Regions from separate parts of the Homo sapiens genome. Here all the other regions are linked to region 2. Evidence: fine-mapped expression QTL. A gene starts in region 2. Each other region holds a variant in brackets. All regions are shown on one strand. Distances are from middle to middle. Region 1 overlaps ZFHX3 (zinc finger homeobox 3). Region 2 holds the start of ZFHX3 (zinc finger homeobox 3). Region 3 overlaps ZFHX3 (zinc finger homeobox 3). Region 4 has its middle 37 kb from the start of HCCAT5.

The links.
Region 1: its variant is fine-mapped to the expression of ZFHX3 in fibroblasts (GTEx, PIP above 0.99). The same link has a PIP of 0.9 or more in sun-exposed skin and unexposed skin.
Region 3: its variant is fine-mapped to the expression of ZFHX3 in monocytes after LPS (Quach 2016, PIP 0.95). The same link has a PIP of 0.9 or more in monocytes after Pam3CSK4 and monocytes after R848.
Region 4: its variant is fine-mapped to the expression of ZFHX3 in whole blood (TOPMed, PIP above 0.99).

Annotation. Positions count from the first base shown.
Region 1 is chr16:72,986,958-72,994,957 of GRCh38, reverse strand. The region is part of intron 1 of ZFHX3 (zinc finger homeobox 3); the gene reads left to right. Among named protein-coding and RNA genes, the nearest start is that of ZFHX3, 57 kb to the left of the region's middle. The variant G/A (reference allele first, on the strand shown) is at 4,581.
Region 2 is chr16:73,043,874-73,051,873 of GRCh38, reverse strand. It overlaps ZFHX3 (zinc finger homeobox 3), which reads left to right and starts at 3,746. Exons shown (of 10, transcript NM_006885.4): 1 at 3,746-4,122. It overlaps LOC124903719 (a long non-coding RNA gene), which reads right to left and starts at 4,296. Exons shown (of 2, transcript XR_007065116.1): 1 at 4,074-4,296; 2 at 1,086-1,748. RefSeq lists enhancers at 2,845-3,380, 3,917-4,452, 6,816-7,316 and a silencer at 3,306-4,155.
Region 3 is chr16:72,974,690-72,982,689 of GRCh38, reverse strand. The region is part of intron 1 of ZFHX3 (zinc finger homeobox 3); the gene reads left to right. Among named protein-coding and RNA genes, the nearest start is that of ZFHX3, 69 kb to the left of the region's middle. The variant A/G (reference allele first, on the strand shown) is at 4,425.
Region 4 is chr16:73,125,718-73,133,717 of GRCh38, reverse strand. It overlaps a transcript of ZFHX3 not described here. Among named protein-coding and RNA genes, the nearest start is that of HCCAT5, 37 kb to the right of the region's middle. The variant C/T (reference allele first, on the strand shown) is at 4,062.

The DNA of each region.
Region 1 (8,000 bases), 57 kb after region 2:
CTTCATTTAACTTGATGGGAATGCTTTCAAACAGGGGTTCCGGAATATTGCTACAGCTTTTCAACCCTGTCCACAGGCAGCTCTTGAAGAGATGTGCATTTGACTAGATGATTTACCTTGAAACCTGCCAAGAGAATAATTTTAGGAAACACCCCCGCCCCTTGTGCCTCTTTAATTGTTCCGTCAGGAGGAACCTTGGTGCTGAGCACTGGTTCTGTTGAGAAGTGCTAATTAGAAATAATAGCTACAACAAACAAGTGTTAGGAGGCAGCCTAAGTGATGTCAACATCAAGAAGCTGTCATTGGCTCCCTGCAGATGTGCGGGCCAGCTGTGAGGCAGGGGAGCCTGCTGCTCCCTGCCATCCACCTGGGGAAAGGTAGAGGAGGTAGGAGTCGGATAGGCTGCCATAGCCAGGCCCCCTTGGCTCGATGACTTTTGTTCCTTGGTTTGAGGTTCTGTTAATGCACTCTAAGTCCCATTGGTACTCAATATGGACTCAATTTCAGCTGGTCCAGAAAGTCTTGGGGGAATCCCAGAAATGGCACCTGGGGGCTTGGGGAGGGGAAGTCATTCCATCCCAGGAGGCAGACAAGAATCCTTCTGAAGGTGGAAGTAATACAGCGACTTAAATATAACCTGAGCCAGACTTGCATGTCTAAGTGAATGCTGAGTCTTAAATATTCATTTACAATGTTAAAGTCTATAATTTCTTCATAAAGAATTCTAAAATAATAAAGATGACCTGGTAGGCAAAATTCACTTGTATTTTCTAAAAGCTTTTGATAAGGTCCCTTATAAAAGATTAAGAGAGAACAAAACCACAGTGTGGCACAAAGTCCTTGTTGTGGATTAAAAAATGATTAAGTGATAGGGAACAGAAGAATTCTGGTGGAGACCCACTGCTTGTAGCGGGGAGAGGTTAATAGAGGGGTGTCTGAGAAATCTGTCGTCGGGGCTGGAGTTATTAAGTATATTAATTGTTTGGAGAAGGAAATGGAGGGTGAATTAGTGCACTCGGCTGCTGCTACCCTGGTTTTTATAACTGGATTCAACCCAGAGAGTCTCTACAGCCCCGAATGCATTGGGGGATCGGGCAGCACAGTGGCAGAGGAAATGAAGTTTGAAGACGTCTAGGGTGTAATTCAGGTTGGCAGAAAGTCTGGTCCACGTGGGAAAGCTACCATGCCCCCTGAACTTGCCGCCTCTCCTGAGGACAGAGGTTCAGGAGTTATCGTGAGCAAACAGCAGTTCAGTGAAGTGACTTTTTAAGTACAAAACAGATAAAGGAAATTGGAGTGGGGAGTGGTGGGCTTGAAAAATAAAGGGTTTTCTTAGGAAGGATGAAACAGGCGCTGCTGTGCTGTTGGGCATCGCTTGTTGTCCTGTTAGAGTGAGGAGGGATGATTCTTTTCGTCTGACAATGTTCTTTTTTGTGCAGTTTTAGGTATTTTTAGAGTCATGAGGAGGGCAGCTGCTCTATTTGGAAGTGCTCACATCTTTATTTCTCAATGGGGATTTTGCACGTTATTCTGAAACATGTTAATACATGTAGGCAGCTAACGGTAGGGGGGCCTGTGGACAGGTCTGGTGGAATCACCAAATCATAGCAGATGATACTACGGATCTCTTAGCATAGACCACATGGCCTGGCATCTAGAATCTTGTGATGCGAACAGTGGGCCATACAGGGTGCTTGGGTGAGGAGTGATTTTGGTTGAGTGGGTGATAGGAGCAGGCAGCCAGGCTGGCCAGCCAGGCCGGGGGACCTGTCTTCATGTGTCCTGCCTTTTTGCAGTTCTTGTTTTTTTTGTTTGTTTGTTTGAGATGGAGACTAGCTCTGTCACCCAGGCTGGGGTGCAGTGGTGCGATCTCGGCTCACCACAGCCTCCACCTCCCAGGTTCAAGCGATTCTCCTGCCTCAGCCTGGGAGTAGCTGGGATTACAGGCGCCTAGCGCCATGCCCGGCTAATTTTTCTATTTTTAGTAGAGATGGGGTCTCACCATGTTGGCCAGGCTGGTCTCAAACTCCTGACCTCAGGTGATCCACCCGTCTCAGCCTCCCAGAGTGCTAGGATTATAGGCAGGGGCCATCGCGCCTGGCCTTTCTGCAGTTTTTGATGCCCCTCGAAGGCTCTTTGGTGCCTTCCTTCCGCGGCTGGAATGAGTTTCGTGTGCACGGCCATCCACCTTGAGAGGTTGTACCTTTCTGAATGGGCTGTTCCAAGCAAGCCATACATTTCTTTCTTGGTCAGTCTCCTTTATTTGCTAATTTCCTTTTGCTGTCTGTCTCTTTACATGGGTGCCACTTTAATTAAGACCTAGAGAAGTGCTGGCCTCCATGAGAAATGTGGCTGAGTCCCCTCTTTTGGCTGTGAGTAAATGCCTTTGTGTGGGTTGGGATCCCTAGGAGGCACCCCCCTAGGGAATTTTTGCAATCTTGGCCGAGCATAGTTAGAAGCTGCAATTACTACTTGGTTGCTAATTACCCAGCCTCACATTAGATCCGTTTACAGGGAGAGCTTGGAGCCTGTCAGCAAAGGTCAGCCGGAGGTCCTCTCACTAAACAGCCCTCTTGTGATAGCTGTTGGAGGGGAAAGGCATTAATGGGGGAAGGCAGGGAAGCTGGCTCTGGGCTGTAGGATCCTCGCTGTGGGGGATGGGAGAGGCAGAAGTGCTGTTGATGGCTGCAGAGGTCAGAGAGGCTGATAACCCATCTCATAACCTTTCTCAGGAGGCCTGGAGGAAGGCGGAGAAACGCTTTCATTTTGGAGGCTCTGCTCTAGCAAGGAGGGAGATGGATACTTAGAAGAAACTAGGACCTGTGGGTTGGGGACTTTTAATGGTTGACTATGTGAGAAAGATCAGTTCGGCGACAGCCTCTGAGAGTGGAAGAGACCCCTCTGCCCCCAACTCAGGGCATCATTTCTGTTGTTTCTTTGTACTGCCTATACTGTATTATTTGCTTTACATTTTTCTTTTCACGGGATCCTCCGTTATAACCACAAATACCCACCTTAGCATCATCCCGAGCAATTGTGTCTGAGGAATCACAGGCTCGTGCTGGTTGGATTGGCTCAGATAAACATTGACTGGCTAATGACCAGAATGTACAAAGTTCACCCACTCCCACCTGGAACCATCTAGCCCCTGGCCAGTGTTGCGTGGGTGAAACACCCTGAAAAAAGATGATGGAAAAGACACTGGCCTGGAAGTCTGAGTACTTGTGTGTGACCATGGACAAGTCTCTCTGCTTCTCTGAGCCTCAAAAGTGAGAATACGGCCTTTGTTGGATTGCTATGCAAATGACATGAGAACATGTTCTTTGTCTGTATAAATGTTAATAAATATTAATATAAGCATTAATAGCTAACCCCTATTAAGCATCTACTGTGCTAAATACTTCACTGTCTCATTAATCCTTACAACCCTATGGGGTAAAGATGATCCTACACCCATCATATGAGTGATGAACTTGAGGCCCAAAGTCTGTAGCAAATTTGCTGCTGTTAAATGGCCTCTGCGCTGGGATGCCAGCTCAGAGCATATACTCCTAGCCACGACAGCAGTCCCTCTTTATCCTTGGGGAGACATTCCAAGACACTTAGTGGAATGTCTGAGAGGGAGGATAGTATCAAACCCTAGGTAGACTATGTTTTTTTCTCTACCTACATGCCTATGATAAAATTTAATTTATAAATTAGGCACAGTAAGAGATTAACAGTGATAACTAATAATAAAATAGAACAATTAAAACAATATCCTGTAATGACAGTTATGGGAATATGGTCTCTCCTCTCTCTCAGAATATCTTACTGTACTGTAATGTGGGTAACTGAGGTCATGGAAGATGAAGCCTCGGATAAGGGACTGCTATACTATATTATCCTAATGCTATACAGTACATACTATGCTGTGTATAGGACTTCTTTGTCATTAACCCATTTCTCTCTCTTTTTTTTTTTTTAATTTTATTTTTTGAGACAGGGTCTCACTCTGTCACCCAGGCTGGAGTGCAGTGACGCGATCTTGGTTCACTGCAACCTCCGCCTCCCGAGTTTAAGCGATTCTTGTACCTCAGCCTCTCGAGTAGCTGGGATTACAGGCATGTGCCGCCACACCCGGCTAATTTTTGTATTTTAGTAGTGGCAGGGTTTCGCCATGTTGCTCAGGCTGGTCTCGAAGTCCTGGCCTCGAGTGATCCACCTGCCTCGGACTCTCAGAGTACTGGGATTACAGGCATGAGCCACTGCGCCCAGCCATTATTGACCCATTTCAAGGTGTTAGTTTAGTGCTTCTCTGATATCTGCCTGTTGGGTACATTATTAGACAAAAATCGTTTAAAGTGAGGAGAACTGGAAAGAAGAGGGTGCTCAGCTCCTCCAGGGTGGATCCCTTTTAAGATCGCTCAGCAGCTACAGCAAGGTCTTCAGCACTCAGTTCCTGTCTGTTTGTCCCATCCGTGGCTGGGACAGGCCTGGACTTCCCCATAGCTCTCTCCCGCCCGCTTCAAATCAGGGCAAGATCAGTATGTGGTGATGGGGGCCTTGGAGGCAGGGGCACGATGTGTGAGACTGATAAC[G/A]TTCTTGCAGCCTGAGACATGGGCTTTAGAGCAGTTTCGAAACTCTGTGTTCTCTCTCTTCACAAGTACAATGCGTTTCCCTGGCATTTACAGGCCAGGACCTGGGAGAACGCCGTGTCGTCTTAAACCTCAGAAATTGCCAAGTGACAGTGCCAAGGGACGGGTTTACTGGTTTCCCCTCCATCGGACTGAGTGCAGCTGCCCTTCCCCACCCTCCTGCAGTTAGGGAGGCGTGTCCCTCTTTTGACTGGCTGAGTCAGAAATCAGCCAGGACTTAGCGCTTTTTGATTTGAACAGAAACGGTGGGGGGAAAAAAACCCAAACCTTGTGGTATTTTATAATTCGGGAAAGTTGGTCTAGAGAGGGCCAGCGAATTGGCTGTGGGACCCTGTTAGGGAAAGGTCTGGGCCTCCTGACTCCTGCTTTCTCTTTTCCTGAGCCAGAGGAGCCCCAGGCCTGTGCATGAAACATACTTGACAAAACTAAATTTTTACTGAATTTCCACCCCTTGGGTGCTGACTAACACCACTTCCCCACATATAACTCTGCGTCCGCATAATTAACATATAATTTGATACCTGGAAATTCATGCAGGGTGGAGCTGGAATGGATTACTCAGCTTTTGGCAATTCTTCCTGGGCTGTAGAACTCTGTGTGCTGCATCTTGCTTCTCCTGTTACTGCTAACTCATTTGGCCCATATTCTTCCCACTTATTTCTTCCTTCTGCCCTGGAAAGATGAGTGAAATAAGTATGTGGTATGTTTTTGTCATTGAAGCAACTGAAGGATTGTTGACTTATCCATGTGCACTGTCCACTTACCTAGTATGCGTGTTCTTAGCCTGCTTCTCGCATTGGCTGGTGGAGTTTGATAGTGCCATGGTTTCTTTTTTTTTTTTTTGAGACAGAGTGTCTGTCGCCCAGGCTGGAGTGCAGTGACACAATCTTGGCCCACTGCAACTTCCACCTCCTGGGTTCAAGCAATTCTCCTGCCTCAGCCTCCTGAGTATCTTGGATTACTGTCATGCAGCACCACGCCTGGCTAATATTTGTATTTTTAGTAGAGACAGGGTTTCACCTTGGCCTGGCTGGTCTCAAACTCCTGACCTCAGGTGATCCACCCGCTTCGGCCTCCCAAGGTGCTGGTATTATAGTCATGAACAGCCGCACCTGGCTCTGTTTTAATTTTTTTTTTTTTTTAATTTGAGACAGCGTCTTGCTGTCTTGCCCAGGCCAAGAGTGCAGTGATGTGATCTTGGCTCACCGCAGCCTCAAACTTCTGGGCTAAGTGATCCTCTTGCCTTGGCCTCTCTTAGCTGAGACCACAGGTGTGCACCACCACTTCCTACTAATATTTGTATTTTTTGTAGAGATGGGGTCTCCCTATGTTGTCCAGGCTGGTCTCAAACTCAGGGGCTCCTGTGATCCTCCCACTTTGGCCTCCCAAAGTGCTGGAATTGTAAGTGTGATCTCTGTGCCTAGCCAGTACCGTAGTTTATTTCATTGCCTGCTTCCTCATCAAGATGATGCCATCAGTATTAAAAAATGCAGTCAGTAATTATCAGTGAAGAATAAAGATGAAAAATTATGATGATTTTGCAATTTAAATTTATAGCATATGCTGATGGTTATAAGTTTTGTTGGAGAAATTATTTATTGTGTTGACACATGTATTAATGTGGGGGAATCATGGCTCTTAATGTACATGATACCTGCCTTTATAGATTGAAAGACTGGGTGAACCCTGACCTGTTGCAGGGACCCAGTTAGTGCAATTGAATTCCAATCAGGATCACTTGGAAATGAATCCAGAAATCCGCGTTATTTGAAAAGAAGTGATTTAGAGCAGTGCAGAGGGAAGATTGTATATGGTGTGAGCTCAGAGGAAGGCTGGAGTGAATCCCTTAATCAGAAATGTTTGGCGGGTTCCAGCCTGCATATCGACCCCTCGATGGCCACAGCTTCCTGATCCAGTGGCTGGAGAAGGATCTTGGGTCCGTGTACCAGCTAAGCATGCACCCTTCAGTCAGCTGCAGGAAAGGTGGGAGCGGGAAGAGTAGCTCCGGGACTGGCTGGCTGTTCCCTGCCCTAGACTGTGCTTATGAGCCTTTCAGGTTTTGAGAACTTGACTTTGGAAAGCTTCTAAATTTGTTCCTAGTGGGTTGATGTATTTTGTGGAGGTCAAATTAGAGCTAATGGCCTTAATGGTTTACAGTGCTCCTAAATGGTTCTTAGCACTTATGCAGGCTCGACTGGCCCTGTTGGGCGGGTTTCCAAGTGTGGACCATATTGTTCTTAGGGTATGTTTTTTGCTGAAGTTATTGTTGGGAGGACAGATATGTGCAAGTGAGGTTAAAAGGTAACAGCAGAATTAGCCACATATAATATTAAACTTTCTTTTGGTATCAAATCCAGGGAGGTGTTTGTTAACATGGGCCCCGTGAGCATATGTGAATGAATAGGGCGTCCAGCTTGGAGTTCAGTAGGTGGCGTTTGTCTGTCCTTTGCCACTTTGCCTAGGAGCAGGTGATTCATGAAAGGCAGTCCTAGGGAAGCCTCAGATTCCCTCCGGCCATTCCTGGTTGCCAAATAGTTCCTCTAAGAGCAGGTAGCCAGGTTAAAGGAATCCCTGGTGCATCCCTTCCAGCCATGCTGTGGTATCCATGAGTTCATGGCAAGGTCTTTGGCAAACGAATGATACTCTACATAAAACTGGCTCCAGTGTTCTGATTTCTGTGTGTTTGGGAGTAGGTGGGGCAGAACCAGATGTCTATAAAGGAGCTGCATGTCTGTACTGGTCCACACCATTGAAGCATACATGTGTACACAGGCACAGTGTGGGGGCAATGACCTCCCAGAGCTGCTGGTTGCAGCTGAATGGGAAGAAAATAGGGCAGGTAGAGGTCCCTCTACCTAAACTGAGGTGGCAGTGGCAACGGAGACCAGGAGCACTGGTGAATGATTTCTCCATGCTTTGATCGGGGAGGGTGGGAGGTGGAAGCAGCCTCCACATCATCTTACTTTGGCCTGTCAGCTCTCAAAGTGGTGTCCCTTCAATTGCAAATGTTGTTTTGAAGGCCTAGTGCTGTAGAAGTCTATTACAGGTAAAATATTCTTAGCTGCTATGAGAGTTGAGTGAGGGATGGGTGCTTGCCTTCTAGCTGCTGATGGAATGACTACTGAATTCTCCTTAAAACTTGAGTTCTTTGTTTTGTGTTGAGACAGGATCTCACTTTGTTGCCCAGGCTGGCGTGTAGTGGCTGGATCACAGCTCCCACAACTCACTGCAGCCTCAGCCTCCTGGACTCTGGTGATTCTCCCACCTCAGTCTCCCGAGTAACTGGGGCTACAGGTGCTCGCCACCACACCTTGCTAATTTTTGTGTTTTTCGTAGAGGTGGGGTTTTGTTTTCGTCGTGTTA
Region 2 (8,000 bases):
GCATGGCAAATTCCCTTTGCCCTTTCAGAAATAATATTTTTGTTTAAAAAAGAAGGAGCGAGAAAGAGAGAGAGAGCTCTTTACCTAACATGTAAAGCTGTTTTAAGGCAACTTCTGTATTTTGGCTTTCTTAAAACTTGGGGCTTTGTAACTTAAAATTAATTTAGAAAAACTCTCCGAAATCACAGCTTTTAAAAAATGGTTACTCATTTGTATCTTTGTTGTGGGATATCATTGACAGATTTAGCACCTGAGCTGGGGAGGGTGGGTAAGGAAATTAGATAATGTTCCACCTACGATTTGGGGGTAAAAATTAATCTATGGAATTAGCACTGTAGGGATGGATGGAGGCCTTGAGGCTTCAGCAGAAAAATGTGAATCAAAACATCTGTGTGCAGGCCTTGGCACACCAGCTTCCAATGGTTATGAAGGCAAATGTGAGCTGTTCTGAGGAACTTCTGCATTCTGTTCCATACCCAGGAGGGCTCGGCCACCCAGCGGGTACCAGGCCCCTAAATATAACTGCCTCAAAATCATGGGGTGAACTCAGGCCAATTCAGCTCCAAATGGTTCCTTGTTTATTTCAGGAACGTTTGTTTTTGTTTCTTGCCCTCTTCTGGATTTTTCTTTGTTAAAGCCTCCGGGTTATTTAAGCACTAGTTTTAAAAATCAATGTATACGTATAATTTAATAAAAATAGAAGAACCCGGAAGGGTGCACAAATCTGTCTAAACCCGCTGTACTGTGAAAAGAGAGCCCAGGTTACGCTGGAAGTCAGAATGCTGACATCCACTGTATCTTAGAGATCATATTTACCTTTGCAAAAGTGGAAGGATACAGCATTAGTAAGTGTGTATGTGTAGAGAAAGAGAGAGACAAGCAGGTTTGGCTCGGTAGAATCATTGTAATTTACCAGCCAGCTCAGCGTTAGGGGGCAGGCCTCTGGCTTGGAGAGTGGGTAAGGGGAGGAGTAGGGAAGGGGTTAGCGCTCCCTGATTTATTTTTAAATATTTATCCTTTCGGCTGTTGCCAATTACGCTTTCCAGATGAGACGAGACTGGGTATGGAGAACTGCGAGGGAAGAATTGCCTTTTCTGAGAGTGGGTTTATTTGTCAGCAGTGTTCAGGATGGAGCGATGAGAATGTCAGGCTGTCACTGCTGGGTAGGCCATGGGTTTAACATCAGGCAGCTGCCCTCCGAAGAGCCAGGGCTTCCAGAGCTGGAGGATAGAATTTGCAAGGAGTATTTCAGAGGAACTCCTGATTTCATATGTAAGTGCAGAAGTTGCCAATTCCCTCTGAAGAGGTATTGTTTTTATGAATAAGGAAAATGAGTTTTAGTAGAGGTGACACCCAGCTTGTGTGTAGTCCCTCATTTCCATAATGTACAGAGGCCATAGATCACCTGCCTGTGGATTACCTGTTAAATTTTTGCCTGGAACAAAGGCAGGCTTGACTAGGCCTCATCATGTGTGTAGCTGGTGCCAGATAAAGAAAAGGAACTCAGGGTCACTCTCAGTTCTACTTGTCAGGCCTCTCAAGTGCAGGAGGCAGGTTGCAGGGTCTGCCTCTTGGGACAGTGGCAGTATTAGGGCAGATCCCGTCCGGGCCTTCTGCCCAGGCAGTGCTGCATCCTCCCAGGTTACTTTAATAGCTTGTTCTTTGGGCTTTCTAGCTTTTATTTTATTGAAGGTATTTGTCTGTGGGCCTACCAGGATCATGATGTCACCAGATTACGAGGTTGTCCCCTGTTAATAAAAATGAAGATAAAGCAGCAAAATTAGATTTTCTGAGAGTATCAACATTTTCTTGTTGTCTTTAATTTATCCAGCAGGCCTTACCTATCCCAGGTAAGGAATCTTCGTTTTTCCGGAGAGATTGCCAGAGGCATCTCTGCGTTGTGGGCCACGTTGCTTGCGGTCCTGCTAGCATACGTCATCTTCATGTCTTATTCATAGTCACTTTTTCAATTAAATTATTAATTGTTTTCTTTAAGGTGTTCTCAACTTATATGGCCAATATAAATAACAGTGTGTTTTGAAAACACCACCTGTTCTTGGGCCTGAAGTCAGGTGGTCTGGAAGCAGCTCTGCAGTGACCATAGTCTGGTTTGCAAACTCATCCTCCACCTTCCCTGTTGGCTCTTAACTCCCCCCACCCGGCCCCCGTGCTCTCACGTGTGACTGAATTGGGCTTGTGCCCTCCTTTGTCCCTAATCGGACATGATTCCCTGGAGGCAGTCTTTTCTCCCAGGGCCTTAGCTGAAATAAATAAATAAATAAATAAATTTCCCCAGAATCTATTCTGGACTAAAATGTAGAAAGGGGCTGTCTGTACCCAACAGGTTAGATACTTACATTAATCTGAACCCAACTTACATTGTGCAAAAAGCCTTCTATACGGGGATGTGATGGTTTTCACCAGCTAAGCATCCCTTTTTCTCCCGAGTCAGTGTGTGCCTCATGCTAATACAATTCCATACATACTGCTCTTCGCCTCATGAGCTGATTATATTTCTAACACTTGCATGGTTCATTATTGTGCCCGAGGAAAAGACTCTCCAGGCTGTAAGGCCAGCCTGGGTGGGTGGTTTTCAGAAAGGGTAAAAGCAGGTGCCTTTCTGTGCTGTGAGAATCGGGAGTAAATTCAGACTGAGGGTGGGATTCTGACAGGGAGGACAGAGGACTTCCGGTGAGATTTCTTTGGGGCTGGCTTTCAGATGAGAATGGAAAAAGGTGGACTTGGGGAGATAGAAGGCGCCCAGCAATCGCTTTGACCAACTGGAAAAGGTGAACTTGGGGAGATAGAAAGGCGCCCAGCAATCACTTTGACCAACTGGGGTGGCCGCTTTAAATCTTACCCTGGCGGTAGGAACTCCCTGGGAAAGGGCACGATCTTTGCTATCTCTGCGGTGATGTGGCTTTATAAGGTGAGGCTAAGGAGCCTGGAGGCTTACATGGTAGACTGCATCTCCTTTTCTTCCCACTTCTTTTCTTCCTATCTTTCTAGTGATCTCTCCTTTTCTCTTTCTCTGGCCTCAAAAACTATCCTTAAACTCTCAACGGAGAGCAGGGGGATGTTTTTATAAGTTTCTGCAACTGAAAAACAGAAGTGCTCTGTAAAGCAGTTAATAGGATGGGTGTGTGTTTCCAATAAATTCCTGTCCACATTGGCTCCTGTCCCCATGCTTGAGTGGCCTGGCTGTGACGTGGACGGGGCCCAGGGAGCGATGGCTCCGGTTCGGAGGCCTCAGGCTCCTTTTAGTGGCCGAGGGCGCGTCCCTTTCTTCTCGCCCGATTCTAGGCCGGCCCCTGACCTTTGATGAGCGAGGGGTCAGCGCCTCCGGGAGGGCCTGGGCTTTGTTCCCGCCGGGGCCGGTTCCCGGGGCGGCGCAGGCCGAGCGGCGAGGGTTCCTGGCCCCAGGCGGGTGCGCGGGACCCCCGGCCTGCCCCAAGGCCCGCGCCCCAAGCGGAGCGAGCGCAGCTGAGCGCCCGGGTCCCGCGCGTCCCTGTGCGTCCCCGGGTCCCTGCGGGCGGGCGGGCGCGGTCGCCGCCGAGCAACCCGGCCTGCGCCCGGCACGACTGTAGATGTCAGGCTTTGCCCGGGGAGCCGAGCGGCAGCGGGGCTGTGAGTTTCAAATTAACCTTCCGCTTTGTTGCTGTGTAATGTGGATCCCCGAAGGCCCCCCGCCCCGCCCGCCCCCCTTCCCCGGGCGGTGCGCGCTGCAAACTGCGAGTTGGGCTTCATTTACATAAAGCGATTCCGGGCGGGCGGCGGCAGAGGAGGAGGCGGCGGCGGCGGGCAGGCCGGGGACCCGGACGCCAGCGCCGCGCCCCGTGGGTGAATCCCCGCCGCGTCCCGGGGACCTCCCTCCGGGGACGGGCCGACCGCCAGCCCTGCCGCCACCATGAGCTCCCCTCCCCTGTCTCCGGGCCCCCTGCTCCTGACCAGAGCCACCTCCGAGTCCTGGGGCCAGCGGGAGGTGGGGAGCATGCCGCCTGGGGTGGGTGAGCTCGGGGCTCGGGTGCCACTGGAATTTCCCGTTGTTGCGCATGGCGGCGCGGCCCCCGGACCTGCAAGTGCCGCCTCCCTCCGGAGGTGCGCGGAGGCTTGGTGTGCCAGGTGAGTGCAGCCTCCCTCCGGGTCCGCGCAGCCGGCCTGGAGCCGCGGGCAGGTGCTGCGAGTCTTGGCTGAACTTCCCATTCTCTTGGGGCGTGTGGGGGAAGGGCAGGCTGGATGCACTTGAACTCCCAGACTCCAGTTGCCACCTACCTAGGGTGAGAGCGCCTAAATTCTGCTGGGCACACAGTAAAGCTCTTCCTTCCTCCTTCCTTCCCTTCCCTCTGTCCTCCCCTCCCTCCTCCTTTCCTGAGTCTGCTTTTGGATTAGTTCCTGCCTTCTGAATACTTGTGGTACTGGTGTCATTTAGAAGTTTGGGTGCCTCCGCCTAAAAATGCACCCTTTTCAGCCCTGGAGAAGTCGCTGGTCAGTTCGAAACAATGTGAAGAATGCGCTTGTGGAGTAATTAAAGGGAGAATCAGAGTTTTGGAGCTGGAGGGCACCTTTGGAGATCATCTTGTCCACCCTCTAATTTTAGTTTTTTCGCACTCTTGGAAAAGTCAGAGCATTTATTTCCTTGGGCAGGGGCGGGGTGGGGAGCTGATGCAAAGGAGAGAGTCAAGATTTTTATCCTGTTAGGAGGAGGAATGCCTATGTTTAGGTCAGTAGCAGAAAAACAATAACAACAAAAAGAAGCATTGTAGGCTTGGAGGGAAACGAACCTTCTGGAAAATGTTCTTTTCTGCCTTGGACACACCTGTGTTATGATAGGAAAAGGCCTGGAGGGCAAAGACTGCAGCTCACGCATGGTGTGTGCTAAGAGGGAATTGCGTGGCACAGTGGTACCTCCTGTGTTAAACTGGCTTAAGTGAAAGCCGTGAGCAGGTGAATCCAGGAGGGTCATCCCTCCCCCCACCCTCTGTGTCATTTAACAGTCCTTGAAGACTCCCTAAAGCCACTGACAGAAAACCCCAGAGAGAACAGATGGCTCTGCCTGGGCACAGAAGGAAGGCCTCTCCTTCATACTGGGTCCTGCTTGTCAGAATGCACCAGGGCAAAGCCTTGAAGGTAGATTGTGAGAAAGTTACACATCATCTTATTTCTCTCTATGCTTTGAGATCCTTGGAGACAAGTCACTAAATAAATAGTGTATAATTTAAAGCTCACCCTAGCTGGGGAAACTCTGTTTCCTTGCCGTCAAGCAGCAGGTGCGAGTTTGTAGAGTTGGCCCCTCGAGTTCCCTCATTCCTGAATTCAGGAGGTGTCAAATCTTCACGTTCAGTTAATGGCTGTGGTTTCTGGATAGGTTTCAAGGGAAACCCTGAAAATCACGAGTTCCAGGAGGCTGGGCTGGAGGAGGACACGAGAGTGCTGTGGTGGGGACTGCATTGGGTAGGAAAACATACACCTTCCAAGGTAACCTGATCAAGAAAGGCCGTAGCAAGAAACATGAGTCTGCTCCTTGTTATCAGAACAGCCACTGGCAGCCTGAGATTCTGAATCCCTCTTGCTACTCAAACATGAAAAACAATGAAGGCAAAAGTGAGGTGTGAGGGAAGTCAGGAGACCACGGTTCCAAATAATTGAAGGGTTTCAAGAATGGGGTCTTCACAGAGAGGTACATACCTGGATGTTTGCACGCCTGTATTTGTGTTCATTCTGTTTTGCAGAGACCCTGCAGGCACCCTTTCAGAGAGTGTGTAGCTATGATGGCCAAAAGAAACTTTTTCTCTCTCCCTTTGCTAAATTACAGGACTAAGGAGTTCTCCTCATGGTGTTTCCAGCATAGTTTTCAGAAAGCATGTAAAGTGCCTCTCAGAGTGGGCTGGGGTCACAGTTGGCTCTTTTATTTAATTACACAAGTGTTATTTAACAACATGGAGCAGATGCAGAAGCGAGCACTTTTAGACTTTAAAAACAGCCCTTTCAGAATCACAAGGAATTAAGTGACTTGGAGACCTTCTGTCTTTATGACATGGGTCACTTCCCTCTCTCAACAACCCCCCCCCACTTTTTTTTTTTTTTTTGAAATGGCTGTACTTTCTATGAAATAGAGCTACTGTTTTCCATTTCTCCTGAAAACAGTGTTGATGAACAGGGAACTATTGAGAAACACTTGCTAACTATTCAATAATAATAATAATAATAATAATAATAATAATAATAATAATAATGTAAATCCATGCTGCTTCCCCAACCACCTGAAACTTAATTTTGGTTCCTTTTCTTCCATTTTTTGTTTGCACAAATGAATGTTAAGGGAGGGTTGGAAAGGCCCATCTAAAACGGTGCCCTCCACAGGCCCCTGCCTGGCTCTTCCCACCAGGACAGTGAAGTGCCTGCCTTCTTGCTGCTTTGAGGTTGAATTTAACTGCTGTGTCAACTCAGTGCCAATTGGACAGCCCAGTGGCAAGGAGCTAAAATAAGCGAGATTTAGTTTTCATCATTATGACTTTAAATGATGCTTGCTAGACACTCCCAGGACCGGCCTGGCTCATCTTTGGTGACCCAAAAGTGGTTAGTTCATTAGAATAAATCTGTGATTACAGACTGCTGGAAAAGTATTTCTAGGGCTAGTGGTGATGTGGCTTAGTTCTAGCATCCAGGAAACATGTCCTTATTGTCACTGTGTGCAGTTGTTCCTTTTTGGTGTATCTTTCAGGGGTAGGAGCTTTTTTTCTTCCACCTACAAAGTATCAGTAAGAATCTGGAAATGCTTCAGGGCTCAGAGCAGACCCTTACTTAAGAAATTATTTTTATTGCAGAGTTGTAACAGTGTCATCTTAAAAAGTAAATATTTAAGTGACTAAGCAACATTTTGTAAAAGTGTAGGGAACTGGCTTGAATTATTTAAAGGGGAAGAAAGTGAGCTGTCTTTATAAAACTCACCTTTTGGCCAGGCATGGTGGCTCATGCCTGTAATCCCAGCACTTTGGGAGGCTGAGGCAGGCAGATCACTTGAGGTTGGGAGTTCGAGACCAGCCTGATCAACATGGAGAAACCCCGTCTCTACTAAAAATACAAAATTAGCCGAGTGTGATGGTGCATTCCTGTAACTCCAGCTACTCAGGAGGCCGAGGCAGGAGAATCGCTTGAATCTGGGAGGGGGAGGTTGCAGTGAGCTGAGATTGGGCCATTGCATTCTAGCCTGGGCAACAAGAGCGAAACTCCGAAACTCCATCTCAAAGCAAACAAACAAACAAACAAACAAACACTCACCTTTTAAGAGTAACTCACTTGTTTCTCAGCTCTAAGGATTTAGCCTTGACTTACAAGTAGGCAGCAATGATTCTGGTCTGAACAAACTTATATAAACTCCATCTCACCCTCACTCGTACTGCACACTGAAGATGCCTGTCAGTAACCTGAAGAAGTACAGTATGTGCTGTGGTTTATGCTTTCATTTGTTATTAAAATGATTGCTTGCTGTTAGCCTGGCCTATTTCTGTGATGTTTGGGCCTGTTGGCTTGCTCTGGTTCCTAAGGCTGGTGCAATTAACCAGGATGGGGGCGTTACTGTAAAAACACAACAGGAAGGCAGATTCCATTACAGTGAACCTCATAGGGGTATCCAAATGCTCTGGTATGAGAATTTGGTGGTAATGGTTATTATTAGAAATCACAGCACAGCTCAGAACCACCGTCCTCTGCCTGAGTTAAAAAACTATGGTCAGGGGAAATGGGAACCCAGTTTTAATAGAATCTAGGCAAGGGAATTCCTTGGCAGGAGCTAGTTTAAATCATAAAGGGCGCCTGTTCTGTCCAAAGCACAGTGTCCTGTGTCCTCAGGCCACTCAGATTGAGAAAGGAGCACACAGAAGCTACGGTTGTGTCAAACCGCCCCGAGGGAGAGACCCAGGCAGAAATCTTGGCTCATTGGCAAGCCACTTTGAAAATCCAGATTAAAGAGAAGCACTACAAAATCAACAACTGTCAGAGGG
Region 3 (8,000 bases), 69 kb after region 2:
CTCCACCATTCTGGCCTATGTAAAAATTTACGACTTAATGTCTTGCCATCACTGTTCTGGTCTGTGTGGAGCAACTCAATATTTGGTGGTGTGTATAACTCTACTCCACTGAGGTGTGATCAATGAAAATACCTCCTTTGGGTCTTTGGCATCCTATCTTTTTCTCGTATTTAGATGATACATGTTTTGGAAGGATTTGGAAGCTTAGGCATGCAGCAGGTAGGTTTCTGTCTTTATTCTTCTTGTTTCTCTGTGAGTTGGTGATTCTCTTTAAGGAAATGATGCCTTCATGGAGCCAAGAGCACCACAGTAGAAACTGTAGCTTGTGTCCTGGTCCTTGCTCTGCAGCTAACCAGTTGCAGGACCTTGAGAAAGAATGACTCGTAGGAGTCACTCAGATGTTTGAATGAATTATTTTTTTAAACCTGTAAAATCGAAAATATGATTCCCATTCTATTTAAAAAGATTGTTAGAGGTCAAATGAGAGTGTTTGAAAATGTGTAGAAAGGCTGGGCGCTGTGGCTCACTCCTGTAATCACAGCGCTTTGGGAGGCCAAGGCGGGCAGATCACCTGAGGTCAGGAGTTCAAGACCAGCCTGGCCAACATGGTGAAACCCTGTCTCTACTAAAAATACAGAAATTAGCCGGGCATGGTGGTAGGTGCGTGTAATCCCAGCTACTCAGGAGGCTGAAGCAGGAGAATCGCTTGAACCCGGGAGGTGGAGGTTGCAGTGAGCCGAGATGGCGCCACTGCATTCCAGCCTGGATGACAGAGCGAGACTCCATCTCAGGAAAAAAAAAAAAAAAAAAAAGGAAAATGTGTAAAACGCTGTGTGCATGGAAGAAGCATTGTTATGTGCCCTTTGGAAGGCTGGTGCTGGGTGTGACTGTGCCCTTGGTCACATATTGGGGTCCCCGTGAAGAAGTCCATTGCACAGAGTGCTTCTGGGGAGCTTGCAGCATGGTGATGCGTATTGAAGTTGGAGGGTGTGCTGGATGTTGGGGGTGGGTATGGGCCCACATATGGCCAGAAGCCCACTTACCACTGGGCCGTTTACCTACAGAGCCACACTAGAGAACCAGCCCAATTGGGAGCAGTTCAGTTGAGGCTTTGCAAAGCAATTAAGGTGCTTATAAAACATTCATGCTGAGATAAAAGACAGTGTGCGCAAAAACAATGGCTGGTAAACATCTGATTTTTTAAACTCACTGAAAGTGTTAAAAATATTTTCTTAACCCGTTGAGTCAAGAAGTGGAGGCTTTTAATTCAACGGATGTATATTCTTCTTAATCAGACTTTGGCTCAAAGCTTGAAATCAAGCTGTTATATAACCTTAGGCTGTTAACTTTTGTAAACAGGCGCATTTTTGCTCAGTAATGATCGTGATAGCTACCACTTATAAAGGCTGTCAGGTGCTATGCCCAGGCGTGATGCATATTGTCTTTTTCTGTGTTCTTTTAAACATTAGCAGCCTGGTGGTGCTTGGTACCTTCTAAGAGAAGGAGTAAGAGTGGGGGTCAGTAGATGGTGGTGTTTGAAAGGAGCTTTAGAGATAGCTGGGGCCCGGCCTGGGAGGAAAGCCCTTCGGAAGAAAGGAGAAACCCACATTTCTTTGAAAAAAGGCTTGGCTTGCCATGAACGTATTGACTCAAGACTGAATCTCTTGGTTCTGGTCAATGCTGTTCTTTTAGAAGATGTTCCTGATAGCGAATGGTAACTTTTAAGGAAAAAAAAAATTACTGTATAAAAGTAGAAAGAATGATATAATGAACCCTTCCATAGTTCTATCACCTTGACTTAACAATGAACTTTTGGCTAGATTTGTTCCGTCTTTTTTGTCCGTTGCTGAAATATTTTGAAGCCAACGATATCATGCTGCTTCATCATTTTCTTATGTAAACATAATATTATTCCCTAACAAAACTGACTTTTTTTGAGACAAGGTCTCACTCTGTGGCCCAAGCTAGAGTACAGTGGTGCGATCACAGCTCATTGCAGCCTTGACCTCCCTGGTCTCAAGCAATCAAGTAGCTGGGACTACAGGCGCACACCACTGCACCCAGCTGTTTTTGTTTTTTTTTTTTTAACTTTTGGTAGTGATGGGGTTTCACCTTGTTGCCCGGGCTGGTCTCAGACTCCTGGGCTCAAGCAATCTGCCCGTCTCAGCCTCCCAAAGTGCTGATACTTGAGGTTTGAGCCACTGCCCCTGGCCAAAACTGACATTATTAACATGATCTAATCCCAAGTTGCAATTCAGACTTATCTGATTGTCCCCAAAATGGCTTTTTACATTTGGCTGGTTAGAACTGGCATCCATACGAAACTACATAGCGCATCTAGCTGTTGTTTGGTTCTTAGGTCCCCTTTAATCTAGAACAGTTCTCCTCCTTCCCCAACGTCCATGTGAGCCCCTACCCATCCAGCCAGCCTGTGGATTTAAAAGGATGATGCGGAGTAGCTTCATGTGGGAGGAAGGCACTGTTAGTGTGGTGTGAAGATACCCAGGTCTTCGTCCTAGCTCTGCCACTGACCGGCTCTCTGACGTCAGCAAACCACCAACACCCTGTGGGGTCAGTATTCTTGTCTATCAGTGGAAACAGTGAGACTAGCTGGCCTCACACTCAAGCCTTCTCATTATTACCTCCACAAAGAGATCCGGGAAATAGGGCTGCACGCCCTACTTGCACCTAGTCTTATCCCATTCTCAGCAGTTGAGAAATTACTGGAGCTAAATAATCCTGACCAATTGATTTTTTTTTCTCTTGGACATTGTAAATAGTGTACCTTTAAAAGCATACCTAGCATGCCTTTATCCTCTTGACTTTTAGAAAGCTTAGAGCCAAATTTGACTCAGTGTGTAGGTTATTCTTACATGCATTTTAAGCTTGATTTTTTTGGTTCAAAATTTCCTCCAGTTTTGTTTTTTCTTTCTTCTTTTGCCCGGGCCTCAATTTATGCTATGATGTTGTATTGTATATTGTAAACAGGATCAATAAATAACTGTGTGCTAGGTATTCTTATGGGGCCATCACCTAGTCTGTAAGCGCATTGATTTCGGGGTCCATGTCTTATATATTCTTTGCTTTGTTGAGGCACAGATTAGGTACTCAATAAAAGCTTCCTGAGAGATTTTGGTTGGACACATTGCCATCACTGGTCCATGTAAAATTTCCATTTTAACAGTGAAGAGTTGTGGGGAGCAGTGTTAATTTCGGACTGTGCCCTGGTTCTTCTGTGATCCATCTTTCCTATGGCGAAATGGCCTGTGGAGGTCTGGAGAGCCACCTGGCTGGTGGTGTTTTTCATAGAACTTGTCTTTTTGAGGAGCTCCTTGCTGTTTTTTCCATAGGCCTTAGGTAAGCAAAGCAATATTTGGCAGGCAAACAGTTGGAGGGATCTTAACTGCTAAAACAGTAACCATTCTGCGTATTCCGAAGAGAAGCCCACCTGTGGTTCCAGCCTTGGACACAGGAGCGCTGTTGTTGGGTGCTGAGGATGATGGAGGTGGATTAGTCACAATCTATCATCTGCTACATCTGTAAAAGAGTAAAGTAGCCCATCACATGTGCTCCACGCTCTCTTAGGACTCAGGTGTGAGCTCTCCTGTTGACACTCAGCTTTCCTTTGCTGCTTGTGAGAGTTTGGCCTGACCCTCAGGAAGGTGTTGGTACCAACTGGTTCTCTCCTTTACCTTCCTAGACCTCTGCCTCTTCATCTATCCAGGAGAGAGAGGGAGAAGAACATCTGTCCTAGAGGGTTAGGTGAGGACCAGAGTCTGGGCATGGTAAGCACCTAGCACAGTGCCTGGCACATAGTAGGCACTCAATAAATGGTAAGTGCCTTCAGGATCATCTCTATGACTGGCTGGAGGACATCTTTACAACTGTTGTATAGTGGCCTCCCCTTTTCTTGTTTGTTGACATTTGGAAGGGGATCCCAAGGGGCTGTGGAGATTGGTTGTAAGGATGTTTATTCTGCATCCCTGGAAGACTTTGCTGTAATCCATAGAGAAGCACCGAGGTGCCTTGTTGGTTCAGAGTCCAACGATGTCTCCCACCCCCGGCCGATGCTCTCCTAGGCCAGCAGCGTGGCGCTGGTCTTTTATTTTTCTGGGAGGAGAGCACTTCCAATCCTCTGGGCAGTGTGGACTTAGCCCAGAGGAAGGCGAGACCTCGGTCAGGGAGTGGGGGAAGGGGTCCTGGGTGTGGCTGGGAAGTTGAGGCTTATGGCCTGCAAGTTTTCTTCTAATGGAATTTCCCATCACTTACTGCCCTGCTGATTTCTGATCAATGAAAATGAAATTGCATCACCTCCTCAGAGGCTCCACGTATGCCTGCTGCTTCCAGCTGTGTCAGTTCCGGTAAAATAATCTCATCAGGCGTGTGAGAGGGTAATAGGAAATAAAAATAAAAACCCACAATTA[A/G]CAAGAGGCCTTGTAGCTGAGTAACACTTTCCATCCCAGAGCAGAAAGGGCTGGGTCGTGAATGCTCGGGAAAGAGTTCCTTAGAAAGAAAAAAAATCCCAGGCTGGGTGCGGTGGCTCACGCCTGTAATCCCAGCACTCTGGGAGGATGAGGCGGGCAGGTCACCTGAGGTCAGGAGTTTGAGACCATCCTGGCCAACATGGTGAAACCCCGTTTCTACTAAAAATACAAAAATTAGCTGGGCATGGTGGTGTGCGCCTGTGGTCCCAGCTACTCAGGAGGCTGAGGCAGGAGAGTTGCTTGAACCTGGGAGGCGGAGGTTGCAGTGAGCCGAGATCGTGCCACTGCACTCCAGCCTGGGCAACAAGAGTGAGACTCTGTCTCAAAAAAAAAAGAAAAAAGAAAAAAAATCCCTGGTCCTTTTCTTCTTCCCCTTTTTCTTCTCACTTCCCCTGAATTCCATCTCTCCCCTCCACCCTGGGGTGCATGGTTTGAAATTGTGCACAGATTTTCATTGCCCCGCTTTTGGGGTCAGTAGAATTTCTGTGTGATATGCTCATGCTGGTGTGGCTTTTGCTTTTTTTTTCCCTGAGTCCCCTGCAGGTAGACACCAAGTGAATCGTAGAGATCCCAGCCTCTCCTCAAGAGCTGTGTGGAGAGTGATTTTTTTCCCCCCACTGACCCACGACAGGGAACTAATAGTTGGGGAACAACTCAAAGTCGAGTGCAGGTTGTACATAGACTTCTAAGAGGTGGTTCATGTTAGTTCCTAGACTTTATGCTTCAATTCTAACTCCTTTAAGAATAAGACTCCCCTCTCTGCAGCATTCCCCATAATGCAGCATGTGTCGTGAGCATGCGACCCTATAAATGGACACTGGTCACGTGAAAGCTGGGCTGAGCCACCTCCTTGTGCAGTGCAGTGAGTGTGTCAACCCGCCAACCCTCAGCACCTCTTCATAAGACCTGGGGAGGCCAGACGCTGCGTCTGGAACCTGCTGCACTGTGTGTGGAGTTTATAAAGTCGCTGGTCCCAGCTTAAAGAGGAACCAAGGCCAAAGAAACCAGGATGGGAATGCAAAGGGCAGGTGAGGAAGTGGGAAACCAGTTGGGTTACCTAAGAGGAGCCAGTAGAAATGAAATCATATCCTTTCTTGTCAACTCGACATCAAAGGAGAAGAAATGCTTATGTGTAGGCCGGTTCAGTGGTTCTGCAATTTCTCATCACCATTTGTGGGATGGCATGCCCTTCATCCCAGAGAAAAACATGTTGGGCTGTCAGGAAATGGTCAACCTAAAATATCCCTAAAATGCCTTTGATGGGTGACTCCCATGTGGACTGAAGGCGAGACCCCCGTGGGGGTTAGAACTCCCGGGGCACTGGCGGAGTTGAACCGAGGTCTCAGGGCCTCCGGGTTCCCCAGCACTGCAGGGTCTCAGGGCGGCGGTGCCACTTGTCCAGCCATGAGATGCCATGGTCAGTGTTTTTAAACACAGTGGACCTCAGTCAGTTCACTGTGACCACACCTTGTTAATAGAAGGACAGATTCTGGCATCAGAGCAGGTAGACTCTGGAATGAGGCGAGCAGTAACCCAGATAATTGTGTTGACATAGTGAATCCCAGTGGCCACGTGGAGTGCTGAGTCCATTTCTACCGGGGTCCTGATCACTGCCTTCCAGTTCCTTCCTTTGCCTGCCTGGACGCTACTGAGAGCAAGCTCGTAGGAGTCTGTATCGACAGGAGGGACGCGCTGTGTATGTTGTAGGCACTCAATAAATATTGTGGCACGAATGAATAAAAATCATTAGAACAACCAGTGAGTAGTTGGATAAGTATTATGCAGAGGAGCTTAAAACTATGACCACTGGGGCTGGAACCCCAGTAGCCTCTGTGTTATTGAAGTCAAAGAAATTGGCCCCATTCACCATCCAGATTTGATTCCCCGAATCTTACCATGGCTTAACATGGGAATCTTTTGGAACTGCAGGAACAGTTGCCAAAATTTGTTCTGGCGCTGTCCAAGATTAGAACTGCTGGCTGGAAGTTTTGGTGGAATGAGCAGAGCTCTAGGCATGAAAGGAGAGAGGGTGCAGCTTCAGAAAGAAAGCTGAAGTTCTTTATGTTAACATGCATTTTTCATATGTTTGTGTGTTTGCACAAATACGCTTCCCCTCTTTCATCCTAGACACTTAGCACAGGGTCTTGATCTACATTGATCACATTTTATGACTTGAGCTGGCAATTTCTCCCCTGGGACCAGACCTAACCAGGGTGTTCAGGAAGCCATTAAGGAAAAATATGTAACCACACTCATTCCCAAACTCAATTGTTCTGTCTTAGCAGTGCTCAGATAAGAGATTTTCAAGCATAATTAATCCAAGTACTATTTAACGTGGCCTTGGTGGTTCTTCTTAGCAGCTGTTGACCCAAACGCAGCATTGGGAGCAGCAAGAGGAGAAAGACCATCTGTGCCATTTTTGCTGAGTTGGTGAGGGTGTAATTATTGCCCACAGTCACTTGGTTCTCTGGGTGGCTTCTGGAAGGTTAAGGAAGTGTGAGCTCTTGGATCCTTACACTTCAAGAAGAAATTTTCCTTTGTTATTTTAGCTAACTATCAGGGCCGCTCTTTGAAGTGGCCAGTGGTAAGTATGTCTCAATATGGATTTCTTGATTAAAAGTAACAGTGCAAATAATGGGCTTTGTAATTACCATGTGGGATGGAGAAGGGGCCATGAAGAAGGGGACATGTGATCACGTTTCATGATCCCCTCTCTTCCCCCTGTACACCCCTCTCTCCTGATTGTATTGTATTTTATTTTGTTTGAGACAGAGTCTCACTCTGTCTTCCAGACTGGAGTGCAGTGGCACGATCAGCTCACTGCAACTTCTGCCTCCCGGGTTCAAGTGATTCTGCTGCCTCAGCCTCCTGAGTTAGCTGGGATCACAGGCGCCTGCCACCATGCCCGGCTAAGTTTTGTATTTTTAGTATAGAGGGTGTTTCACTATGTTGGCCAGGCTTGTCTTGAACTCCTGACCTCCAGTGATCCGCCCACCTCGGCCTCCCAAAGTGCTGGGATTACAGGTATGAGCCACCACACCTGGCCCTGATAGGGTTTTAAGCTTTGGAATTTGGAAGTCTTTCAAACAAACTCAGAGTGCCAGCAGAATCCATGCCCCCTTCAGTCTGTCTCAAAGCCCTTGCGTCCTGGTGGTAGTTCTTGCTGCCGGTTCACTTTACCCTAAGAAAGAGAATCGAGATAGGAGCAACTCTCTGGGCCTCTAGGATTTGAGGACTACTCATGATGAAATAAACCTCTCAAGCCTTCAGTCTAGTGCAGTGAGTTATCTAGGAGGGAATTCAGTGATGGGGTCTCTGTGCATAGCATGCCTCCACCAGATAGGAAGTTGGGTGGAAGCTTAGTACGCACATCCCAAAGGGGTCTCTCGAGGGTGCCCAGTCAAGGCATGGGGAAGACCCCGTGTACGATTTTGCTTTTGCAGTAGGCATCCCCTTTTCATGCCTTTACCAATGTCTCTACCTTACAGTGGCCATTACTGCTTTGTTGAGTGTCCC
Region 4 (8,000 bases), 82 kb before region 2:
ACAAATTAGGTGGCTTCAATGACAGAAATTTATTTTCTCATAATTCTGCAGGCCAGAAGCCCAAGATCAAGGTGTTGGCAGGACTGGTTTCTTCTGAGGCCTCTCGTCTTGGCTTATAGCTGGCCATCTTCCTCCAGAGTGTTCACATGGTCTTTGCTCTATGTGTCTGTGTCCGAATCTCCTCTTCTTAAAAGGACACCAGTCTTATTGGATTAGGGTCCACCCATATGCCCTCAATTTACCCTAATGACCTCTTTTTTTTTTGAGACAGAGTCTCAAGTAATTCTCCCGCCTCAGCCTCCCGAGTAGCTGGGACTACAGGCACTCGCCACCACACCTGGCTAATTTTTGTATTTTTAGTAGAGACGGGGTTTCACCATGTTGGCCAGGCTGGTCTTGAACTCCTGACTTCAGGTGATCCACCCACCTCAGCCTCCCAAAGTGCTGGGATTACTGGCGTAAGCCACCACGCCCAGCCCCGAATTACCTCTTTAAAGGTCTTATCTCTAAATACAGTCACATTCTGGGATACTGGGGGTTATGGACATAATTCCACCGTAACACTCAGTTACACATTAGAATTCCCAAGAGATGCCCAGACCATGCCCTAGACCAAAAGCATCAGAACTTCTGTGGGTGAAATACAGGGCTCTGAACTTCTTAAAACACCCCAGGGGCCTCCCATGTGTTGCCAAGGTTGCTCATCACTGGAGCAGCTGGCCTTCCACTCAGAGCACTCTTTGGTGATCCATATTTTGCTGTGCCATGCATCTTCATGAATTTCTCCATCACGATCGGCCAAACCGACCAGGAGAAGAACACTTGCTGACGAAGACGAGAGGGAGAGATGGCCAACATCGAGCATTTGTCTTCCCTCTCCTCCTGATTGATCACTTTATACAATAATAAAACTTTTAAAAGGTTGAACCTGAACTGAGGCTGTGACTGTGACACGATTAATCAAACCCTTGAAGAATCATGTTACATTATGTGCTTCAAGCATTGATCCACTTCACTAAAAGTTGGCCTGAAATACAGCCTAGACACAGGATATGGGATCTGTAAGAAACGGCCGGGATGCTGTCAATTGCTTTGTGTCTCTGTGTGATATGTGGTCCTATAGCAGACCAGACCATGAAGCAGGACAAATTCCAATGCATCAGAGAGGACATCATCCAGTCCCCAGCTGGCCCCAAATTGCTAGGAGTGGAACTACAGAGAAGAGAGAGCTGATTACGGCGTGTTCCTGAAACCTGCTATCATAATACCTTCATCCACGAGGCTCCCAGTCTCCTTCCCTCTTCTTGAATTGATTCCAGACAATCCCAGGATCTCTGACACCATAAAGTTTTCTCCAGGGAGGCACAAGTTTGGGTCCTCTCTAAATCAAAGTTTTAAAGGACCAAGTGCATCCCCTCTCCACTCTTTTTTTTGAGACAGAGTCTTGCTCTGTCACCCAGGCTAGAGTGCAGTGATACAATCAAAGCTCACTGTAGCTTCATTCTCCTGGGCTCAAGTGATCCTCTGACATCAGCCTCCGGAGTAGCTGGGACTACAGTTGTGTGCCACCTCATGGGGCTAATTTTTAAATTTTTGTAGAGATGGGGTTTCACTATGTTGCCCAGGCTGGTCTTGAACTCCTGGCCTCAAGCAATCTTCCCACCTCGGTCTCCTAAAGCACTGGGATTACAGGTGTGAGCCACTGCACCGGACCCTCATCCCTCTTGCATCACAGGGAGGCATCAAGCCAATAATAATACCTAGCATCTCTGTGCAGTGCTTTCTAGTTAACCGAGCAGTTAAACATCCCCAAACATGTGAGCCTCACAACAGCTCCAGGAGGTAGGTGAGCCAAGATTTTTGATCCCCATTTCCCAGAAAATGCAACTTGCTGGGAAAGGAATGTGAGTTGCCGAGATCATAGAATGTGTGGTAGAACTGGAATACAGTACCTAGTTTTAGGACTCGGATCCAGTGGCTTTTCGTAACTCCCTGCTGCAGGCAACATTGGAGACCACAAAAGAAATCAGATCTTGTACTGGCCCCAGGCAAAATCAGGTAAAGGCAAAGCTCCTTTGATGCTTTCGCCCTCTCCTCTGGATATCCCTCCCACCCTGTGAGGCTCACTGTGTCAGCTCACACTTTGACTAGTATCTCTGGGTCCTAAAGTCTCTCTGTCTCTCTGTGTTCCCCTCTTAAAAGTACCCTGTCTGACTTAGCTGGTCCAGTAGGAAGAATCAGACGTGCCCTCAAAGCCCAGCTTGAGCTAGCTGAATGACCTTGGACAAGTTACATTTTGCTTTTTCATTTCCTCCTCTGTGAAATGGATTCTTACTAGAACCTACTTCCATAGGGTTGAATGAAAGATTGTATGAGTCATGTACATAAAGCACTCTGGACCATGAATTGCGTTTATTAAGTACTTCACAAAGGCAGTTGTTTTTTTTAAATGATTTATATTTAGGCATTCATTATATATAACAGGCATAGTAGCTGACCTTTTGCAGGTCCTGCTATGTAATGCTGTGCGTTGACTTGTGCTCATGGTATTTTCATATGTTCTTTCATTGAATTCTCATGTCAACCCTAGAAAACAAGTCCTATTATTACTCCCACTTTACAGATAGAGAAGCTGAGACACAAAGAAGTTAACAAGAGCCAGCAAGGGACAGGACCTGGATTGGAGCCCAGGGGGTCTAACTCCAGAACCAGCGCCACCAGCTCAGGCACAAAGCGGCAGTTGCATAGAGGTTGGTGACAAATGTCTTATAGTGCCCCTAGCCATTTGCATTTTAAAATAAGACTGTCTGGGCCCAGCGTGTTGGCTCACCCCTGTGATCCCAGCACTTTGGGAGGCCGAGGCAGGTGGATCACCTGAGGTCAGGAGTTCGAGACCAGCCTGGCCAACATGGCGAAACCCTGTCTCTACTAAAAATACAAAAATTAGCCAGGCTTGGTGGCAGGTGCCTGTAATCCCAGCTACTTGGGAGGTTGAGGCAGGAGAATCCCTTGAACCCGGGCAGCGGAGGTTGCCGTGAGCTGAGATCACCTCCATTGCACTCCAGCCTCAGAGACAGAGCAAGACTCCATCTTAAAAACAAACTATTGTTTTGTTTTGTTGTTATTTTCTTCCCTATATACTCCACACTTTAAAAAGTAATGAACATCATGTTTTAAAATGATAGGGCAAACCCAGTCTCTGGCTCCACGCCAGTGTCACTCTCCTTGTCCTCAAGTTGCCTACTGCCTCAGTGCAAAGCTAGACATTGTAGACCCTCTCGGAGAAGAGTGTATGGTGCCAGGGATCCTGGTATTGTCTGTAAAGACCAAAAGGATGAAAGCATTGGAGCACACAGCAAGATGGGATATAATTAAGTGCCCAAGAACGCAGAGCCATCTCTTGAGACTGTCGGAGTACAGCTCTCTTTCCAAACATGGTATTTTCCCTGATGTTTTTTTTTTTCCCTCCACCAAAAATTTTCCACTTTAATTACGTGGGTTAGGTTAGAGGAGCTCACCTTCGGAACTTTACATGCGCAAACAGCTAATCCCTTCCATAAGACACATTTCTGGGAAAGCCCAAAAATAAATGTTTACAGTCTGTGCTGGGATAACAGAACCCAGTGGAATTAGAAATGATTTAAGTATTATAGGTCCATGCCCTAAGAAACAATTTTGGGAGAGCTTTCGCCTCTGCATTCTGGAATTCTGGCCTTCATTGTCACAAAGAGTGGAATCACTGGCAATGCTCTCGGGTTAGACGCTTTCCCTGTTTTCCTGCTTTTGCCTTAAACACAAGGAGGATGGTTAATTAAAACCATATTTAAAATATTAAGTCGACTACCTAAAGGAATGAAGTTTATTAAAATTGCTAAGCGTTAAGTACAAAACTTAAAATAGCCTGAGCACACTCTCCTTAGCCCATACCCAAAATATCGGTTGAAAGGAGCATGAGCACAGACATTGGCGAGTGGGCATACACACACACACACACACACACACATACACATGCACACACATGCACATGCGCGCACACATGCACACAGGCGTGGGCACACATA[C/T]ATGCACACACGCACACGCACACACGCACACATCTGCATGCACACACACGCACACACTACACCTCAATACGTTGATATATCAGTAAACGGAATGCATTTCTCAAGCAACCAGCATTTGACAAGCAGAGGGCAAAGACGATCTCCTAATTAAGGTACATAGAAGGCTGTTACACCTCAAAATTGTGAAATGGTCTCATGGGCTCAGAGAAAATAGAGACTGACACTAGATATCACTTCAATTCTGTGTGTGTGTGTGTGTGTGTGTGTGTGTGTGTGTCAGAGTCTCTGCCACCCAGGCTGGAGTGCAGTGGTGCAATTTTGGCTCACTGCAACCTCCACCTCCCAGGCTCAAGCGATTCTCATGCCTCAGCCTCCTGAGTAGCTGGGATTACAGGAACCCACCACCACGCCTGGCTAATTTTTGTATTTTTAGTAGAGACGGGATTTCGCCGTGTTGGCCAGGCTGGTCTTAGAAACTCCCGACCTCAAGTGATCTGCCCACTTCAGCCTCCCAAAGTGCTGGAATTACAGGTGTGCCCCTCCGCACCAGGCCCACTTCAACTCTTTAAGGCTCAGTTTCTCCACCGGTCATCTGGGGTCAGTGTTATCCCCTTTGGAAGAGTGTGGGGAAGGTTTAAGGAGAGACTTAGCACAAAGTAAGTAGGCACTTGCTCAGTGTAATGCCCCTTTCTCCCCAGGATCTCTTTGGGGTTCAATTGATAAAACATGACCATTACTCCAACAACCACATGAGGTGAGTGTTACCATCCCCGTTATATAGATGAGAAACTCTTCCAAAAGGTATTCTCTGATGGTCTCTTCTAATGCTAAGGAATTCCCTTGTTTGTATCACAAATGAGTGGGGAATTGATCTGGACTTTCAGAAACAACCAGGATTTGGGGAACAAGCGGAGAAGGATGTTTCAGACAGGATCAAACTCTACAGAGGCTTGTAAGAGAATAGGGAGTATAAAATGGTAAAAGATCAAAAGAAATGCAACCTTTTCTTCTTCTCCTTCCATATAGAGTGCTTGAGTATGGGTCAGTCAGTGTCATTTGTTCCTGGGCTTATAGTACCTGTTATTTATTAAGTACCCAAGCTGAGAGCCAGTATAGGAAAATGGTTAAGAAAAAGTGCTCTGGAGTTGGTCTGCCTGGGTTTGCATTCCTGCCTGTCATTTATAAGCTGTGTGACCATGGGGAATTCTTTCAACCTCTCTGAGCACTAGGTTTCATGATTGTAAAATTAAGACAAGAATAGTTTCTTCACATGGTTGCTTTGAGAATTAATCAAGTTAATATATGCAGAGCTTTTGCCGTGCCTGCACCTGTGAACATTCAGCACATGGTAATTTGTTGTTGTTGCTGTTTTCATGTGCTGTATATAAATAAAACAAGATTTGGGTGGATTAAGAAATAGACCAAATCACCCAAATAGTAACAACTGGTAGAGACAGGATTCTAAAACCCAGCCCCCCTGTATCAGTCAGAAAAAGTTCAGTTATGCTGGGTAACAAACAAGGCCAAAAATTAAGTGATGTGACACAATAGAAGTTTATTCCTTATTCACACAAAATTCATTGCAGTTTTGGAAAACTATGCATCCATTTGCTTAACATTCCAGATAGTTTCACTCTTATCCATATCAACACTAGTATGCAGGATCACAGTGGCAAGCAAAGAACAGGAAGGTTGTACACCAGTAATTAAATGCTTCTACCCAGCAGGGACATGCATCACTTCTATTCACATTTCATTGGCCAAACAAGTTACATGTTCACATCTAATTCAAGAAAAAGAATTACAATCCTTCCGAGGGCATAAAAGTTCAGGAAAATAAGTCATCAGCCAGTCTCTTAACTACACTATATGGCACCATTCTGCTTCTGTCTGTGATAGGACCAGGCATTGTCCAACTTTCTCTGCAGCCATTAGTTTCAACAGCCCTTACTGAGTGAGGTTCAGGAAAAAGCATCGGGGTTTTAAATGAACTAATTAATCAGCAACTGTTCCATAACATCCAGTCTGCACCCTGTTCCTTTCTTGCCTGCCAGCAGTGCTCCGTGGTCAGTGGCTGTCCTCAAGTGCCCCAGTCAGCTCGGCTGAGCCCAAAGCCTCCCATCTCTGCATTCAGGGGCTCTCTTCTTCCCCCATCCATCACCAGGGACCAGTGATCTTGCCTGTCGATGCCCGGCTCTCGCTTGATGTCTCAGTTCCGGAACAGAGATGCTCCAGCTACTACCTGGGAAGGCTCTGGCCCCAAAAATATTTAGTTAGCAGCCATTCAGTTAAGTGGAATTGACTTTTTATCGGCTTTCCTCTGTACGGCTGCCACCAGCGAAGGCTGTTTCCTTCTTCCCTCTTCTCTGCCTGTCAGTTTCCTCCACATTCCTATCGGCAGCCTTTAGCTCTGATCGATACTAACCGCTGTGTAACAGCTCACGCACGACTGCTCTGGTTTGCATCGATCAGACCCTTCTTCCAACAGGTAGTCAGCTATTTGAGGCAATGACTTGAGATAAACACCTACTTTTACTTCAGGCTAATTCATTTCAGGTGGATTTCAAGGAGGCCCTGCACCCCGTCTCTTAGACAAGCTGAAATTGGAGAGTCAAGATCCACGCACTGCATGCTTGAGATCCTAGGAGACCTTTCTTCCTCTCCCGTTTTCTTTTTCTTTCCCTTGTATTTTGTAAGTGCCACTTATAAACAAGATACCAGGACTCAGGACGTTGAAAATGCCACTTCAGAAAATGTGTCGGCCATCCATCCCTCTGTCCTTTTAATGAGATGCATCCGGGACTGCAGGAAACCAAGACTGCTGCGGAGGCAGGATTGTCGCTGGGCAACCAAGCATCCTTCCAGCTGCCCCAGAAAGAATCTCACAATGTCCTGCAATCCCTGGTCTTCTCACCACCTCAGGGGGCGGTCCTTGAATCCACCCCCATCCTTGTTCCAGGCTCACAAGTGAAATTTACCAGGAGCTGATATTGCAAAATAGATTGCTATTTCGCAACTGACTGCAGTGTGTGGGAGTGGTACAACTTATTAACATGTGCACTGCAACCAAAGAACACACAAGACTGGCTGACGTACACTTTTTTTCCAACGTGTACCCTAAGTGTGGCTGAATGATACATCTAATACTATCATTCACCTATCACGTGGCTCCCAAACCTCCCATCTGTTTCTGTTTCTTCAGTCCCCGCTTGACACATCCAGTACTTCAGTCCCCAAGTCCTGTTGTGCTTCCCCTAGCAGCGCAATGCCCTTGTCTCTTCCCTCCATCTAGGCTGCTATCATCCTCATTCAAGCCCTCATCACCTAGTGCTTGGACCTCTGCAGTATCCTCTCGCTGATTGCCTGGCTTCCAGTTGCTCCCTGCTTTGTTAGTTTGGCCTTGCACACGGATAAATTTCCTGGTGCCCCGCTGTGATTGCCTTTCTCTTCTCTGAAGTCCTCAGTGGCTTCCCAGAGCCTCCCAGAATGGAGGACAAATTCCTCCACCCATCATTCTGGTCCTTGGCTCTCTCCCCATTCTCTGTCTTTCCCCATTCTCTAGCACAAACCCCATACTAGTCCCTGTGGATGACTCACTGCTTCCTCTCTGTGCATTTTTCAGCTATGTGCCTAAGAAACAAATGCTGTGTCCCACACCCTCTTTGAAATTGGTTCAAATCCTGGCTCCATTTCTTATTACTGTATGACCTTGACTGAGTTATCTAACTTCTCTTTGCCTCAATTTCTCATCTGTGAAGTGGGATAATAATGGTACGGTATTAGGGTTCTCTAGAGGGACAGAACTAATGGAATAGATATGTGTGTGTGTGTATATATATGCATATATATATACATATATACACACATATATATATATGGGAGTTTATTAAGTATTAACTCACACGATCACAGCTTCCCACAATAGGCCATCTACAGGCT